Linked DNA regions of Homo sapiens: region 2 is linked to region 1. Evidence: fine-mapped expression QTL. A gene starts in region 1. The other region holds a variant in brackets. All regions are shown on one strand. Distances are between the middles of the regions. Region 1 holds the start of PINLYP (phospholipase A2 inhibitor and LY6/PLAUR domain containing). Region 2 holds the start of SRRM5 (serine/arginine repetitive matrix 5).

What was found.
Region 2: its variant is fine-mapped to the expression of PINLYP in thyroid (GTEx, PIP 0.98).

Annotation. Positions count from the first base shown.
Region 1 is chr19:43,571,902-43,580,222 of GRCh38, reverse strand. PINLYP (phospholipase A2 inhibitor and LY6/PLAUR domain containing) reads right to left here and starts at 4,422. Exons shown (of 6, transcript NM_001193621.3): 1 at 3,304-4,422; 2 at 2,962-3,108; 3 at 1,517-1,633. The coding sequence starts at 3,031. XRCC1 (X-ray repair cross complementing 1) reads left to right here and starts at 4,696. Exons shown (of 17, transcript NM_006297.3): 1 at 4,696-4,815; 2 at 5,221-5,313. The coding sequence starts at 4,765. RefSeq lists enhancers at 1-8, 3,270-3,795, 3,796-4,322, 4,323-4,482 and a silencer at 4,583-4,742.
Region 2 is chr19:43,606,793-43,615,113 of GRCh38, reverse strand. It overlaps ZNF428 (zinc finger protein 428), which reads left to right. Exons shown (of 3, transcript NM_182498.4): 2 at 680-885; 3 at 7,007-7,890. The coding sequence starts at 810. The coding sequence ends at 7,497. SRRM5 (serine/arginine repetitive matrix 5) reads right to left here and starts at 3,026. Exons shown (of 1, transcript NM_001145641.2): 1 at 616-3,026. The coding sequence starts at 2,992. The coding sequence ends at 845. The variant G/C (reference allele first, on the strand shown) is at 4,934.

The DNA.
Region 1 (8,321 bases):
TATGCCGGGATGGGGGTTCTCTTCAAGCCTTTCAGGTCCTTCCTTAACCCACCAACGCTGGCTGGGTGATTTTCGATCTCACTTTCCTTTCACAGCCTCTCCCGACCAGTGTTTTCTCCCTGCACCCAAAGTCGCCTTTATTCCCTCACCAGGCCTCATCATCTCTCCTCCTGTGATTGAAAGTCTCTTTCAGCTTTGTATAAACATCTCTGTCCCCCACTGGTCTCTTCCATTGCTCCCTTTCTCCTCCATCATTTTTCAGGTCTGGGGTGGTCTCTTTCATTTAACTCATGCCCATCTTCTCTCTTCCATTTTATTTTCTGAGACAGGTTTCCCTCTGTTGCCCAGGCTGGAGTGCAGCGGTGTGCACTTAGCTCGCTGCAGCCTCGATCTCCTAAGCTCAAGTGATCCTCCTGCCTCAGCCTCCCAAGTGGCTGGGACTACAGGCATGTGCCACCATGCGCAACTATTTTTTTTTTTTTTTTTCTGTAGAGATGGATCTCTTTTTGTTGTCCAGGCTGGTCTCAAACTCCTGGGCTCAAACGATCCTCCCACCTCAACCTCCCAAAGTGCTGGGATTACAGGCGTGAACCACCGTGCCCGGCCTCCCTTTCATTTTACTCATCCACATCTCCCCCTCCCTGTCTCTGCTTCTCCTCTTTACGATGATTTGCTCAGCCAGGCACGGTAGCTCATGCCTGTAATCCCAGCACTTTGGGAGGTCGAGGCGGGAGAATCACTTGAGGTCAGGAGTTAGAGACCAGCCTGGCCAACATGGCGAAACCCCGTCTCTACTAAAAAATACAAAAATTAGCCAGGTGTGGTGGCACGCACCTGTAATTCCAGCTACTCGGGAGGCTGAGGCAGGAGAATCGCTTGAACCTGGGAAGTGGAGGTTGCAGTGAGCAGAGATCGCGCCATTGCACTCCATCCTGGGTGACAGAGCGAGACTCTGTCTCAAAAAAGAAAAAAAATGATTTGCTCCATACTTCAAGGTTATCATCCATCTCCTGTTTGGGGTGATCCCTTTTCTGTCTCTTCCACCACTCCAACACTCCACCATCATCTCTCCTCCCTCGGTCAGGAATGACCTCTTCCCTGATTACACTTACACTTTCCCACCCCAGCCCAGCCTCTTCCTTCTCTATCCACTCCCCACCATTTCCACCTCCTGCCAGTTAGATTCTTCCCCTCTCACTATTTCTCTGCCCCCCACAGTGTCTTTCCTTACCCCTCTTCTGCCTAAGAAAGTCTATTAACTCTCACCCCTCCCACATTTTCCTTCTCTTTAGGACAGTGTCATTTTCAGAATTCTGTGACAATAATGATTTCTATCACACCACTTATTTCTGTTCCCTCCATCTCATGATGGTCTTTCCCTCTTTCCTGCTCTCCACTGATTTCTTCCCACGCTCCCGTCTTGAGAACCATGATGATCCCCCCTCAGCATGGTAGTCTCTTCCACCCTGAAGGTACACCCCACCTCCCCACCAGGTCCCAGGCCACATCCTCTTACTTGAAGTAGCCTTCCCGACCAGGAGCACACATGTGTCCTTGTCACTGCTGCAGGTCTTCATTTGGCCATGGCACCTGCTCCCCGCCGCCGTACATATTTCGCAGTGTAGTGGGCACCCTGCAGTGTAGACAGAGGGCGAGGCTGTAGTCATGGGTGGTGTGGTCTTCGGACCACGACTTTGACTTAGGACTTTTGTGTCCTGAGAGAGGAGGGACCAGCAGCTCCCTGGTTTTTCATGGGCGGGATGTTGACCACTGCCCAAGGAACTGTCCAGAGTTGGACGAAGAAGCAGTGGTGATGCCAGCAAAGCTGCTTCCAGGGGCGGGAAGCGACTCCACCATGAAGCCTGTTTGCCTAATTACATGGCTGGGGATTTTGGATGCCAGGGTCCGCTGAGAAAGCTCAGGGGCAGGGAGGGGTCGTGATGGAGGTTTCCATGGACTTTTGTGAAACTTCAGGTCCAGCTGGTTCTTGAATGTGGGATTCTCCTCCTTGAAGGTGCCATGTAGGTCTTGTAGACAGCAGGAGCTCAGGCAGGGGGCCCTGAGGCTAGGGTCTGCATCCCAGGTCAAGGAGGGAGAGTGAGGACCAGGAGGGCAGAGGACTTGAACTTCTTGGTTCTGAGAGAGGGGACAGCTAGGGGCCCAGAAACCTGGGTCCTGGGGAAAGTGAGGCTTACTTGGACTCCTGTGTGCAGGGGAGGAGGGGGCTGGGGCCTGAACTTCTTAGTCTAAGGAGAAAGGAAATCTCTCTACCTCTTTTAAAAAAATATATCATATGATATTAATGTATTTTTTTTGAGATGGAGTTTTGCTCTGTCACCCAGGCTGGGGAGTGCAGTGGCACGATCTTGGCTCACTGCAACCTTTGCCTCCCAGTTTCAAGCAATCCTCTCACCTCAGCCTCCCAAGTAGCTAGGATTACAGGCGCCCACCACCAAGCTCAGCTAACTTTTTTTGTATTTTTAGTAAAGACGGGGTTTCACCATGTTGGCCAGGCTGGTCTTGAACTCCTGACCTCAAGTGATCCACCTGCCTCGGCCTCTTAAAGTGCTGGGGTTACAGGCATGAGCCACCGCACCTGGCCTTCTCCCTCTTTTTTTTTTTTTAATTATATTTTTAAAGATTTCCCTTTCCAGCCATGCTCTCATCTGATTTCCTAGAATTGAGATGTGTTTGGGATCCTTCCTGGAGGATGGAGGATTCAGAGCCCACCAAGCCCCTCTCTCAGGGATCCAATCACAGGAGCTTTTCTTCTCTGGGACCCCCAGGCTTTCTCTTCCTTTACCCTTGGCCTCTTCCATGAATCTGAATTTCCAGAATGCCTCCCCGTTCACCTTGAGGACTTGCTGAAGGCTCTTTCTCTCTCTATATCTCTCTCTCTCTCAATCTGGGACCTCTCTCTTCCTGAGGTCCCAGAGACAGTTCAGGTCCCTTGTCACTTACCAAGACCCAGGAGGGTGCAGAGCAACACAAAGGCCAGCAGAAAGGTCTCTGGTCTCCTGGAGAGCCTCATGGTGTGTGTATCAGCAGTACCTGGTCCCCAGCTTTTATAGGAAGCTGAGGAGGGGTGGGTCTGGACCCACATTCACCCTACGGGGAGAAATAGCTGAGGTCAGAACCCAGGGCAGTCCTCTGTGGCCTCCGGGTTGGGAAGGCAGAACCAGAATCCAAAAGTGACCTGGGCATCTTGTGCCCAGCCCCCCACCTCCATGGAGACCCCAGGAGTCTGGGCTTCCATCCCCCTCTTCTATTAGAACCCAGAAAGTCACCACCCTGTTTTCTCACCTTCCCACGGCCCATTGTTGTTTGTTTGTTTGCTTGAAGACCAAGACGGAGTTGGGCCTCTTGATTCCCAGTGGCTGCAAGAACTGGGATTCCCTCTCCTTCTCTCTCTTCCCCTCTCCTCCCAAGGAAGCACCCAGTGTGGGTAGGGCCCCACCTTGGAGCACCCAGCATGTCCAGGCTGGTCCTGCGGGTGCGGGGTGCCTTGTCTCCCTTCCCCTCTCTTCATGTGCTCGGCTCACACTCCTTGTGTGTTTGGGCTGTCTCCAGCTGCGACCCCACCCAGGGCTGCACCCTTGGGTCTCCAAGGCACCGAATGAACAGAGGGATGTCTGTCGGCAGTCATAGGCGGGCGTAGTAAAAGACAGATGCCCACAGTCCACATATTGGGAAACTGAGGCTTTTGTGGAAGAACTCCAGGATAGGGGTGTGTGTGTGTGTGTGTGGTGGGGGTTGGGCACATGCTTTGTGTTATATTTAGGACGCAGAACCCTTCTCTTTTGGCCTCAGGCATAAGGCTGAAAGAGATCTGCTAATTTTTTTCGCGCGTGCGCGCGCGCGTATGTATGTATATGTGCGTGTGTGTGTGTGTGGCAAGGGGACAGAGAGAAGAGTGCAGCCGCCTGAGCCATTTGAAGAGATCCTGTTGCGTAGAATCCAGGTTCCCTACGAAACTACGAAAATTCACTCAGATTTGCTGTCCTAGCCCAGCGCAGTCGCTCACGCCTGTAGTTCCAGCACTTTGAGAGGCCGAGGCAGGTGGATCGCTTGAGCTGAGGAGTTCGAGACCAGTCTGGGCAACATGGCAAGACCCGCCGCCCTCTCACCCCATGTCTCCACAAAAAATACAAAAATTAGCCGAATGTGGTGGCGCGTGCGTGTAATCCCAGCTACTTAGGAGGCTGAAGTGGGAGGATCCCTTGGCCCCAGGAGACAGGGGTTGCAGAAAGCCGAGATCGTGCCACTGCACTCCATCCTGGGTGAGAGAGCAAGACCCTGTCTCAACAAAAAATTTTTAAAAAATAAAATAAATAATAATACAGCAAAAAGATTTGCTTTCTCGGCTTCAGTGTGGGCGGTAACTCCATCGTGCAATGAGAAAGGCGAATTTCTTCCAGACACCAATCCCGGAGGTCGCTTCTGTTGCTAGGCTCCCAGAAAGCAGGGTTCGGACGTCATTGGGAGGCGAGGCTAGAGCGGGGTTGTGTGTGGCGGAGGGAGGCGGGGCTGGAGGAAACGCTCGTTGCTAAGGAACGCAGCGCTCTTCCCGCTCTGGAGAGGCGCGACTGGGCTTGCGCAGTGTCGACGCCGGCGCCGGCGCGCCGGGGTTTGAAAGGCCCGAGCCTCGCGCGCTTGCGCACTTTAGCCAGCGCAGGGCGCACCCCGCCCCCTCCCACTCTCCCTGCCCCTCGGACCCCATACTCTACCTCATCCTTCTGGCCAGGCGAAGCCCACGACGTTGACATGCCGGAGATCCGCCTCCGCCATGTCGTGTCCTGCAGCAGCCAGGACTCGGTGAGGGACCTGCATGGGGGAGGTTGGAAGACGTGAGGGAATTAATGAGGATAGCTCTTAAAAGAGCTTTTGGGGTTCTCTTGGAAGTCTAAGGAGAGTCATGGGGGGATTTCCAGGAGGCTAAAAGTGAATTGTGGAGAGATGTTGAATTAGGGACGTTCCGGCGTCTAGGGAACTTCCGGAGAGAAAAGGAGGAATAGGGAAGCTTTCTTGGAGAGCCCATAGGTGAACTTCCACGGGAAAGTGTTGTAGGGGAAACTCCAGGCAGAGTGTCGGGGGATTAACGGGAGAGCTTAAATCTGGGGGTCGTAGAGGCCTTGGGAGGACTCAAAGGAATCATCTGAGAGCTGGAGGCCTAGCTGTCATCTCTGTGCCCTAATTCTCCTCTCCCACTGTTGTTTCCAGACTCACTGTGCAGAAAATCTTCTCAAGGCAGACACTTACCGAAAATGGCGGGCAGCCAAGGCAGGCGAGAAGACCATCTCTGTGGTCCTACAGGTGATCCTGCCACCCCACCTCCTCCTCACTAGGAGTCTGGAGTCCGGGGTTCCAGATTCTGCTCCTGAGCCAACTGGCAGTGGGTTTAGTCACTTTCTTTGCTGGGCCTCAGCTTCCTTACTCGGAAAATGGGCAGCATAATCCCTGTGCCCCTCAGCAGAGAGGAAAGGAGACCCAAGGATTAAGTCCAGGATGACCACAGGAATCAGTGTGTGGTCCTGGGCAGGTGGCATCTACTTTCTGGGTTCCAGTTTCCTCAGCTGGAACAAAATGAATCATTGCCACGTACTCTGCCTCCTGCAGCCAGTGGGCTCAGGGCTGGAAGGTGTCCAGGAAGGTCGTCTAAGCCAATCAACTCCACTTTAAAGAAGGGGAAACTGGCCGGATGCCGTGGCTCATGCCTGTAAACCCAGCACTTTCAGAGCCTGAGATGGGAGGATTGCTTGAGCTCAGGAGTTCCAGACCAGCCTGGGCAACATATCAAGACCCTGTCTCTATTTTTATTAAAATAAATAATTTTTTTTAAAGAATAATAGCCAGGTATGGTGGTTCACACCTGTAATCCCATCACTTTGGGAGGCCGAAGCTGGAGTATTGCATGAGCCCAGGAGTTTGAGACCAGCCTGGGCAATACAGTAAGATGTCATCTCTACCAAAATTTTATAGATTAGCTGAGTATGGTGGTGTGCACCTGCAATCCCAGCTACTGGCGAGTCTGAGGTGAGAGAATTGCTTGAGCCCAGGAGATGGAGGCTGCAGTGAGCTGAGATTGTGCCACTGCACTCCAGCCTGGGCACCAGAGTGAGACCCCCAAAATATAAAAAATAAAATAATAATAATGAGAGCTGGCATTATTCAACGTTACCTGTCAGTCGCTGCTCTACACACCTCACTCACATGGATTAGCTCATTGAGTCCTCATAAAAAACCCCAAGAGGCAGGCTCTGTTATCCCCACTTTTACAGATGAGGAAACTGAGGCCCAAAGAAGTTATACAATTTGCCTGACAGTCAATCTTTTATTTATCTGTTGAGACAGAGTCTCACTCTGTTCCCAGGCTGTAGTGCAGTGGCATGATCTTGGCTTGGCTCACTGCAGCCTCTACCTCCTGGGCTCAAGCGATCCTCCCACCTCAGCCTCCTGAGTAGCTGGGACTGCAGGTGTGCACCACCATGCCTGGCTAGTTTTTTTTGTATTTTTTTAGAGATGGGGTTTCCACCATGTTGCCAGGCTGGTCTCAAACTCCTGGGCTCAAGCGTTCCTCCTGCTTCAGCCTCCCAAAGTGCTCGGATGACAGGCATGAACCATTGTTCCTGGCCTGGGGGCTGCTTTATGACTATAAGGAGCAGAACACTCTGTGGATAGTGCTAGGGTGACGGAAAAATTAACCTTTTGTGAATGGGCAGTCATTCAGCAAATATCCACTCCTCTCCCTCCCACTGGAGGGGGAGTATATTTCCCTGCTCCATTGATGAGTTTGACCATATGATTTACTTAATGGAATTTCAGCACATCTAACTTCAGCAAGGGCCTTAAATGCACTTGGCTTTTGTGCTCCCATAATATGCCATGAGAACATTTGCCAGGTTACTGCTAATCCCAGAAAACTGTGGAATCTCATGGAAGAGACCTGAATCCTCCCAAACTGCAGCCAAAGCAGCCATCCCACAAATTCTTATAAGAATGCTTGTTGGTATAAGTCTCAGTTTTCATGTTGGGAGGTCGAGGTGGGTGAATCGCTTGAACCCAGGAGTTTGAGACCAGCCTGGGTAACATGGGGAAACCCTATCTCTACGAAAAATTATAAAAAATAGCTGGGCTTGGTGGCGTATGCCTGTAGTCCCAGCTACCAGGGAGGCTGAGCGGGGAGGATTGATTGAGCCCATAAGGTTGAAGCTGCAGTGAACTGTGATGGTTTCACTGCACTCCGGCCTGTGAGACAGAGTGAGACTGTATCTCAAAAAAAAAAAAAAAAAAAAAAAGAAAAGATCTCAGTTTTAGGATGATTTGTTACACAGCATTATTACAGTGTAAGTTAATACAACTTGGTTGTTTTAAACCACTGAGATTAGGGACTCCTTTGTTACTGTAACATCATCTGGTCCACCCCAATTGATGTCAGTGTTTAGTGCCTGTCAACTAATGGCCTCCACTTCCCAGGTTCAAATGATTCTCATGCCTCAGCCTTCTGAGTAGTTGGAATTTACATGCCTGGCTAATTTTTGTATTTATAATAGAGACCGAGTTTTGCCATGTTGGCTAGGCTGGTCTTGAACTCCTGACCTCAGGAGTTCAAGGCAAATGAGCACCAAATGCTAATTTAAGTGATCCACCCACCTTGGCCTCCCAAAATGTTGGGATTACAGGCATGAGCCACTGCACCTGACCTCAGTCTTTTAAACTGTGATAGATACAGATTGCTGACAGTTTTAGTCTTGAGATCTAGATTCAAGCCCCCAGCTCTTCCTCTTAATCGGTGACCTCAAGAAAATTGTTTCATTTCTCTAACCTGTTTTCTCATGTGTCCATTGGGAATAATGACATCCAAGCCCGGAGTTGTGAAAATTCGGTGACATAATGTCTGCACAAGTGCTCTGTCAACATGTAGGTGTTTGTGTAGAGGGAGGGATTTGTGTTTTTATTACTTAGTGGGTGATGATTCCACTGGGCTCTCTTATGATCAAGTGACTCCAGGGAAATCACATTTCATTCTGTTACCCCAGTTGCTGTGGAAACAGAGTGACTGGAGGCAGAAGAGACAGAACCTGTCTCTGGCCTGGGAGAGACTGAGGGAGTATTGCAGCGGTCACCAACATGGTAAACCCCAGAGGGAGCAGCTTGGGGAGGTGATGTGTTTCAGTTGGGATGTCCAGGTTTGATGTGACTTTGGGACATTCTAGGGGTGGCATCCAGGAGGCAGTTGGGGATCACATGTGGAGCTGAAGACAGAATGTGGGGAAGTTGTCAGTGCAGAGAAAGAACCTATAGACTCGGGAGTAGATGATGGA
Region 2 (8,321 bases), 35 kb before region 1:
TTTCCCCATAACACTTCCCCAACCCCAGACCTCCCCATGGTCCAGCAACTAAAGGGTTAAGGCCTGGTATCCGTCCCGCTCCACTCTCAGTTCTGATTGGTGCCCACACCAGTCCCCACTGTTGAATATTTGGAGTGTCACCTCTCCCTACCCCACTGAATAAGAACCAGAAGGCAGCCTTGTTGCCCACATGCGGAAATTAAGACCTAGAGAGGGGGACGGGTGCGGTGGCTCATGCCTATAATCCCAGCACTTTGCGAGGTTGAGGCATGTGGATCACCTGAGGTCAGGAGTTCGAGCCCAGCCTGGCCAACATGGTGAAGCCCCATCTCTACTAAAAATACAAAATTAGCCGGGCGTGAGGACGCACACTTGTAGTTCCAGCTACTCGGGAAGCTGAGGTAGGAGAATTGCTTGAGCCTGGGAGGTGGAGGTTGCAGTGAGCTGAGATCACACCACTGCACTCCAGCCTGGGCAACAGAGAGAGACTCTGTCTCAAAAAAAAAAAAGACCTAGAGAGGGGCAGGGCTTGCAGTCAAGACCCTGTAGACAGTCAGGGACAGAGCTGGGGTCCTCTGTGCCCCATGCCAGCAGTGAGCACACAGTTGGGCTTGGTGGGGATGGGTGCTATGTAAAAATTTATTGAATCATCACAGGTCTTTCCTTTCCCCCTATCCAGCATCCCTCTCTACCTGCCAACATCCTGTATTAGAGAACTTGTGGCCGGAGGTGTGGCTGTGGAGAGCTGGCCGGGGAGGGACGCTGCTCAGCTGCTGCTCTGCTCCTGTCTCCTGTCCCCTCCCCCGGTCATGACAGAGACCCGTGAGCCAGCTGAGACTGGGGGCTACGCCAGCTTGGAAGAAGATGATGAAGACCTTTCCCCAGGTAAGGTGGCCTTAGAGGTGGTGGCGTCGGCTTGACTGTCATCCTGGCTTAGGGTTTGGCCCCCACTGGGAAATGTTGATGGGGAGTGGCTGCTTGTCTTGCTAGGGGTTCTATTCTGACTGAGACTGCTTGTCCTAGTAGGGGATCTCTTCCAGTCGGGACTTCTGGGGACTGTAGATTGACTGGGGTCGCTCTCCTTGCTAGAGGTTCTAGATTGGCTATGATTTCCTTCTTTGCTGGGGGTTCTAGATCGGCTATGAGCTTTCTCCTTGCTGGAGGCTCTAGGTCGACTGTAACCACTCTGCTTATTGGGGCTTCTAGATCGGCTGTGATCTCTCTCCTCGCTGGAGCTTCTAGATTGTCTGCGCTCTCTCTCCTTGCTGGGGCTTCTCCATCGTCTGCGATCTCTCTCTTTGCTGGGGCTTCTGGATTGTCTGTGCTCTCTCTCCTCGCTGGGGCTTCTAGATTGGCTGCGATCTCTCTCCTTGTTGGGGCTTCTAGATTGTCTGCGCTGTCTCTCCTTGCTGGGGCTTCTAGATCGTCTGTGATCTCTCTCTTTGCTGGAGCTTCTAGATTGTCTGCACTGTCTCTCCTTGCTGGGGCTTCTAGATCGTCTGTGATCTCTCTCTTTGCTGGGGCTTCCAAGTTGGCTGTGATCTCTTTCCTTGCTGGGGCTTCTAGATCGGCTGCGATCTCTCGCCTTGTTGGGACTTCTAGATCGGCTATGATCTCTTGCCTTGTTGGGACTTCTAGATCGGCTGCGATCTCTCGCCTTGTAGGGACTTCTAGATCGGCTGCAATCTCTCGCCTTGTTGGGACTTCTAGATCGGCTGCGATCTCTCGCCTTGTAGGGACTTCTAGATCGGCTGCGATCTCTCGCCTTGTTGGGACTTCTAGATCGGCTGTGATCTCTCTGCTTGTTGGGGCTTCCTGATTGACTGCGACCACTCTCCTTCCTGGGGCTGCTAGATCCCCTGTGATCTCTCTCTTTGCTGGAGCTTCTGGAATGGCTATGACTTCTTTCCTTGCTGGGGTTTCTAGACCAGTTGTGACTTCTTCCTCTTCTGGGGGTTCTAGATTGGTTTTGACTTTTCCCCTTGCTGTGGCTTCTAGACTGGCTGTGTCTTCCCATCTGGCTCAGAATTCCCTTCCGGGTGCGACTTCTTGCCCTGCTATGGTTTCTCTTCCAACTGTGACTTCTCACTCTGCTGTGCGTCCTCTTCTGACTGCCACTTCTTGACCTTCTGGGGCTTCTAGATTGGCTGTGACTTTGCGGCCTGCTGCGGGTGCTGGCCTGGTTATAACTCTTGACCCTGCTGGACATTTCAGTGGGGCTGTAACTCTTTTCCCTACTGGGGATGATCATCTGACCGTAGCTCTTCACCTTCCTTGATGAGGATGGAGATGGGTTGTCACTCTTCTCCTTGGAGGGAATTCCAGTCGGGGTTTGACACTTGGCTGTACTGGGAGTTACAGCCAGCTCGGAACTCCTCCCTATACCTGAGCCTCCTGGTGGGCGGTAACTCTTCTTGCTCAGATTTCTAGGCTGGCTGTCACTCCTTTCCCTGTTGCTGGTTCTAGGCCGGCCGTAACTCTTTCCCCGGCTCCCTTTTTGCTGTGAAGTGGGAGTTCTCACCCTGCTGGCCATGCCTGGTCTGGCACCATGAGTTCTTATCCTGCCAGGAGTGCTGGCCCTGCTGGGTGACCTCTTGGAGCTGCGGCTTCCCCTTCTGCCAGGTGTCCTACCCCGGCTGTGTGTGCCCCTCCGCTGGTGGCATCTCACGTCGCTGGCCTTGCTGGCTTTGCTGGTCCTGGTGTCGGTGCTCACCCTGCTGGGTGTTCTTGCTTTGCTGCGGACTCGGGACCTGCTGCTGGGCCGGTTAGAAGGGGCTCTTTTTGTACTGGTCGATTTGGTGGACTTGGAACTGCTTGGGCTCATGACTGAGTTACGGGATGTCGCTGGTTTGGTGGGCACTAAGGATCTGTTGGGTGTTGCTGATTTGGTGGACTTCAAGGAGGCAGGAGGCTTGGGATCCGCAGTGGGCATGGAGGATCCACTGGGTGCCAGAGACATACTGGGCTTTGAAGATCTCTTAGGTGAAGACATGGTGGGCGCAAAAGGGCTTGTGGTCCTGGAAGTCACAGTAGACATGAAACACCTGGTAGCCGTGGACGATGACCTGATTGCCTGTCACAGGCCAACTGTGTGAAGTAATAGTGGGCATTGAAGACTCTGGAGGGTGAGTGGTATGAAGTCAGAGGTGGGAGGAGAGAGGGGAGGGGTCCCAGCCTGAGGCTGGAGATATTTCCTCTGGTTTGCAGCCATTCAGCAGATGTCTTCTGAGGCTGACTCATGCCCAGCATTGCTGGGGACACAGAGATGGGGCAGACCCAGGCCCTGCCTTCAAGGAGCCCATAGTCAGTGGGTGGGGAGGGGGGCCACTGCCCAGAGTGGTCAGGGTGTGATGGAGAGCAGTGCAGGGGCCGGGGAGCCCATACGAGAGAGACACTGACCGCTTGGGGAGTCAGCGAGGACTTCACAGAGGAGGTGACATGAGCTTGGCTTTAAAAAGGAGCAGGAGTTTTGCCAGTAGAGAAAGAAAGGGTCAGGCTGGGCGCGGTGGCTCACACCTGTAATCCCAGCACTTTGGGAGGCTGAGGCAGGCAGATCACCTGAGGTCAGGAGTTCAAGACCAGCCTAACCAACAAGGTGAAACCCCATCTCTACCAAAAATATAAAAATTAGCCAGGTGTGATAGCACACGCTTGTAATCCCAGCTACTTGGGAGGCTGAGGTGGGAGGATCGCTTGAACCTTGGAGGCGGAGGTTGCAGTGAGCCAAGATCACGCCATTGCACGCCAGCCTGGGTGACAGCGAGACTCTCTCTCGAAAAAAAAAAAAATGAACGGGTCAACCAGGTGGGCGAGGAGCAGAGGCCAAGGCTTTGGGGAGGGAGATCAGGGTCTTGGGGCCACTATCATCCACTCACCCACACGTCCTCTGCTGCGGACCCCAAGATCATACCTGCCCTTGAGGAGTTCCCAGTCAGATAAGGGAGATACCCTGGGGGGCAGCTGACTGCAGTCAGCTTCTAGGGCAGTAACAGGAGGAGGTGCTGGGGCAGGGGAAGCTGGAGAGAGACCTGGCTGGGAGCCTGGGGCTTCAGGGTGGTGGCTTCACAGAGGACAGAGTTTGTGCTGGGTCTTGAAGGATGAGTAGGGGGTCACCAGGTGGATAGAGTGGGGAACAGCCCATACCAAGGCCTCAGGAAACGATTGTTAAATGGCAGGAACTAGTAGGAGAGAGCTGCAGGGACGGATGTTCAGAAGGAAAGAGTTATAACCTGTTCTGGGCTGGTGATGCTGGGGACCCAGCAGGAGGGTGGTAAAAAAAGTGACTGGCTGCCTGGGATGAGGAGGTCTGGGACGGCCTCACCAAAGAGGAAGGCCTCCCACTGGGTCCTAAAGGATGGTGGGAAAAACTAGGGCAGGACATTCCCACCAGAGGGAGGAACAGTGTGTGTGAAGCCTCAGAAAAGGTTTGTCAAATTCCATGCAGAGATATCCATGCCATAAATATGTCATAAGTACTTTCTTTGCACAAAGGAAGTGTTTTAGATGCTGGGGCCACAGCAGTGAACCAGACAAAGTCCCAGCTCTCGGGGACAGGCAGTAAACAAACACACAAGTAAATGTTGAATGCAGTGAGTCAGAAGATGGAGAAAAATGAGCCGGCTGCGGTGGCTCATACCTATAATCCCAGCACTTTGGGAGGCTGAGATGAGTGGATCACTTGAGGTCAGGAGTTTGAGACCAGCCTGGCCAACAAGGTGAAACCCCGTCTCTACTAAAAATACAAAAATTACCTGGGCATGCTGGTGCGCCCCTGTAATCCCAGTTACTTGAGAGGCTGAGGCAGAAGAATTGCCTGAACCCAGGAGGCGGAGTTTCCAGTGAGCTGAGATCACGCCACTGCACTCCAGCCTGGATGACAGAGCGAGACTCTATCTCAAAAGAAGATGGAGAAAAATCAAGCAGAGTAAGGGGC[G/C]TAGGGAGTGCTGGGGAGTGGCCAGGGCGTCACTGAGAAGGTGACACTTGAGAAGAGACATGGAATGGAGAGTGACATCGGCAGAAAGGGTGGCAAAGACCCTGAGGCAGGTATGGGCCTGGGGTGTTGGAAGGTGAGGAGCCTGGTATGAAGAGCCTGTGGCCACTGTGATGACAGGAGCAAGGGCGGAGCACAGGGTGCAGTAGCAGGATCCTCTGGGTTCTGGGAGAAACTGAGGAATGGGGCTGGGATGGATACAAGGTGAGGCTTTTGGCAGGCTCCTACCACCAAGGCCGAAGAAGCTGGTACTTCCCACACCGTGGTCACAGGGACCCCATCCCCAACCATTACTCTGTGTGTGCGCCCCCATAATGGCAGCTGATGTCGCCCTTTTCCGTATATCAACTATAAATTTTTCCCCTTTTCTTTTTTTTTTTTGGGAACGGAGTCTTGCTCTGTCACCCAGGCTGGAGTGCAGTGGTTCAATATTGGCTCATCGCAACCTCCGCCTCCCGGGTTCGAGCAATTCTCCTGCCTCAGAGTCCTGAGTAGCTGGGACTATAGGCACCCACCACCCCACACTTGGCTAAATTTTGTATTTTTAGTAGAGACGGGGTTTCACCATGTTGCCCAGAGTGGGTCATGAACTCCTGAGTTCAGGCAATCCGCCCACCTCAGCCTCCCAAAGTGCTAGATTACAGGCCTTTTTCTTTAAACCTAAACTTGTCCTAGGCCTGTCCTTGATAACTGTGAAATCACAGTAATATATCTTACCTATAAATAAATGTTTTAATTCACCTAACTCTCTCTCTCTCTCTCTCCATGGCCACAGATATAAAAGTACATCTGTGTGTATGCATGTGTTTTAATTTGCACAAATACCTTTTCAAATGGTTGTCTCCCTAAAATGATCCAGTGTCAGCCATGGCCCAGGTTCAGCTTTTCCTGCCAGAGCTGTGTAACCACAGGGGAGTGAGTCGTCTAGCCTCCCTGTGCCTCAGTTTCCACATCCATCAACTGGGGATAGTAATAGTACCACCCTCAAAGGGTTGTTGAGGATTTAGTGAGTTAATGTATAAGAACAGGGCTCCTACAATAGCAAGGATGCTGTTGTTACTGGTGGGTTTTTACTACTCCGGCTTTGTCCTTCCTAAATGCCTCCCACCCCACCTCCCCATGGAGTTTTTGTTTTCTTTTGCAATCAATCGAAAGAATCAAATAATTTTTTTTTTTTTTTTTTGCTTTTTTCTAAGACAGCAGAGTCTTGCTCTGTCACCCAGGCTGGAGTGCAGTTGTGTGATCTCGGCTCACTGCAACCTCCGCCTCCTGGGTTGAAGCAGTTCTCCTGCCTCAGCCTCCCGAGTAGCTGGGATTACAGGCGCCCGCCACCACACCCAGCTAATTTTTGTATTTTTAGTAGAGACGAGGTTTCACCATGTTGGCCAGGCTTGTCTTGAACTCCTGACCTCATGATCTGCCCACCTTGGCCTCCCAAAGTGCTAGGATTACAGGAGTAATCTACCGCGCCCGGCCAAAAAAATTCTTTTTAAGTGGTGAGGTCTCACTCTGTCACCCAGGCTGGAAGGGAGTGGCGCAATCATGGCTCAAATGCAGCCTGGAACTCCTCGGCTCAAGTGATCCTCCCGCCTCAGCCTCCCGAGAAGCTGGTACTACAGGTAATGCATCACCAGGCCTGGCTAATTTTTTAATTTTTTGTAGAGACGGAGTCTTGCTATATTGCCCAGGCTGGTCTCAAACTTCTGGGCTCAAGTGATCTTCCCACCTTGGCCACCCAAAAGTGCTGGGATTACAGGCATAAGCCACTGTGCCCAGTCCTGTCCCATGCAGTTCTTGGAAGACATTCATTTGCTTGACACAAAGATACAGGGAATCTACTGGGTGCCAGTCTTGTTCTGTGCCATGGGGACTCATCTGTGGGGAAGGGAAGGGTAGTGTCTAGGCTATCCTTGTCATACTATGGCAAGTCTGAATGTGGGGATTCAGGGAGGGGACAGCTTGGCCTAGCCCTCTTTCCTCTGATACCACTGTCTTCCCCTGTCTGTCCCCCTCCAGGCCCCGAGCATTCCTCTGATTCAGAATACACTCTCTCAGAGCCGGACTCCGAAGAGGAAGAAGATGAGGAGGAGGAGGAAGAGGAGACCACTGACGATCCTGAATATGATCCTGGCTACAAGGTGAAGCAGCGCCTTGGCGGGGGCCGTGGTGGCCCATCCCGCCGGGCCCCCCGTGCAGCCCAGCCCCCGGCCCAGCCTTGCCAGCTCTGTGGCCGCTCACCCCTTGGGGAGGCCCCACCGGGAACCCCACCCTGCCGGCTCTGCTGCCCTGCTACAGCCCCCCAGGAAGCACCAGCCCCTGAAGGCAGGGCCCTCGGGGAGGAAGAGGAGGAACCACCTCGGGCTGGGGAGGGCCGACCAGCTGGGCGGGAGGAGGAGGAGGAAGAGGAGGAGGAGGGAACCTACCACTGTACGGAATGTGAGGATTCCTTCGACAACCTGGGGGAGCTGCACGGGCACTTCATGCTGCATGCCCGGGGTGAGGTGTAGGCAGAGCCCCCATACGGGGAGCTTGGCAGAAGGGGTGGGGTGGGAGGAGGGGGCTGAGGAAATTGGGGTTGTGACAGTGGTCATGGGGGATGGGGTACTGCCGGTCTGTGTTGTCTTAGAAGTAGATGTGTGATGGCCAGAATAAAAGCCAAAATCTGTATCTGTGTGTGTTGGTTCAGAGTGTGTGTGTGTGTGTGTGTATTCCCGCCCGTGTGTGTGTTTGTGTGTGTGTGTGTGTGTGTGTATTCCCCCTGGGCTCCTTCTTGGGGAACCTTGGGGTCTTTTGGGAAAGATAACATTTACTGCGTGCTTGTATTCGATGAGGTTTCCATGTATTTACTTACAGACCCCATAATGTAAAGGCTCTAATAATAGAATTTTGTTTCTCACTCACAAAATGGTGCTGGGTGAGTCATTTGGGGACCCAGGCCATCCCTTAAGCCTGTTGTCTCCCCCATGGTCCAGACTGGGTGGCCATAGCCTGGGTCCTGCTGGCAGAAGAGGACAGGATGCCTGGTGAGGTGCACGTGTTGTCTTACAAGCCCTGGCCTGCCAGGGGCACACACTGCTTCCATTGACACGCCTTTGCTGAGAAATTAGATATGTGGCCGCAGCTAACTGCAAAAACAACCTGGGAGAAGCAGTCTAGCCAAGCGCCCAGAAAGCAGAAAACAGTTCATGGAGGACAGCTAGGGCTTTCTGCCACATAGCCTAGGAACTTCCACAAAGAGGACTTTAATTATAATCACAGCTACGCTTTCTCAGCGCTTCCTGGGTATCTGGTGCCAGTCCAAGGGCTTTATATATATTGACTCATAGAAATG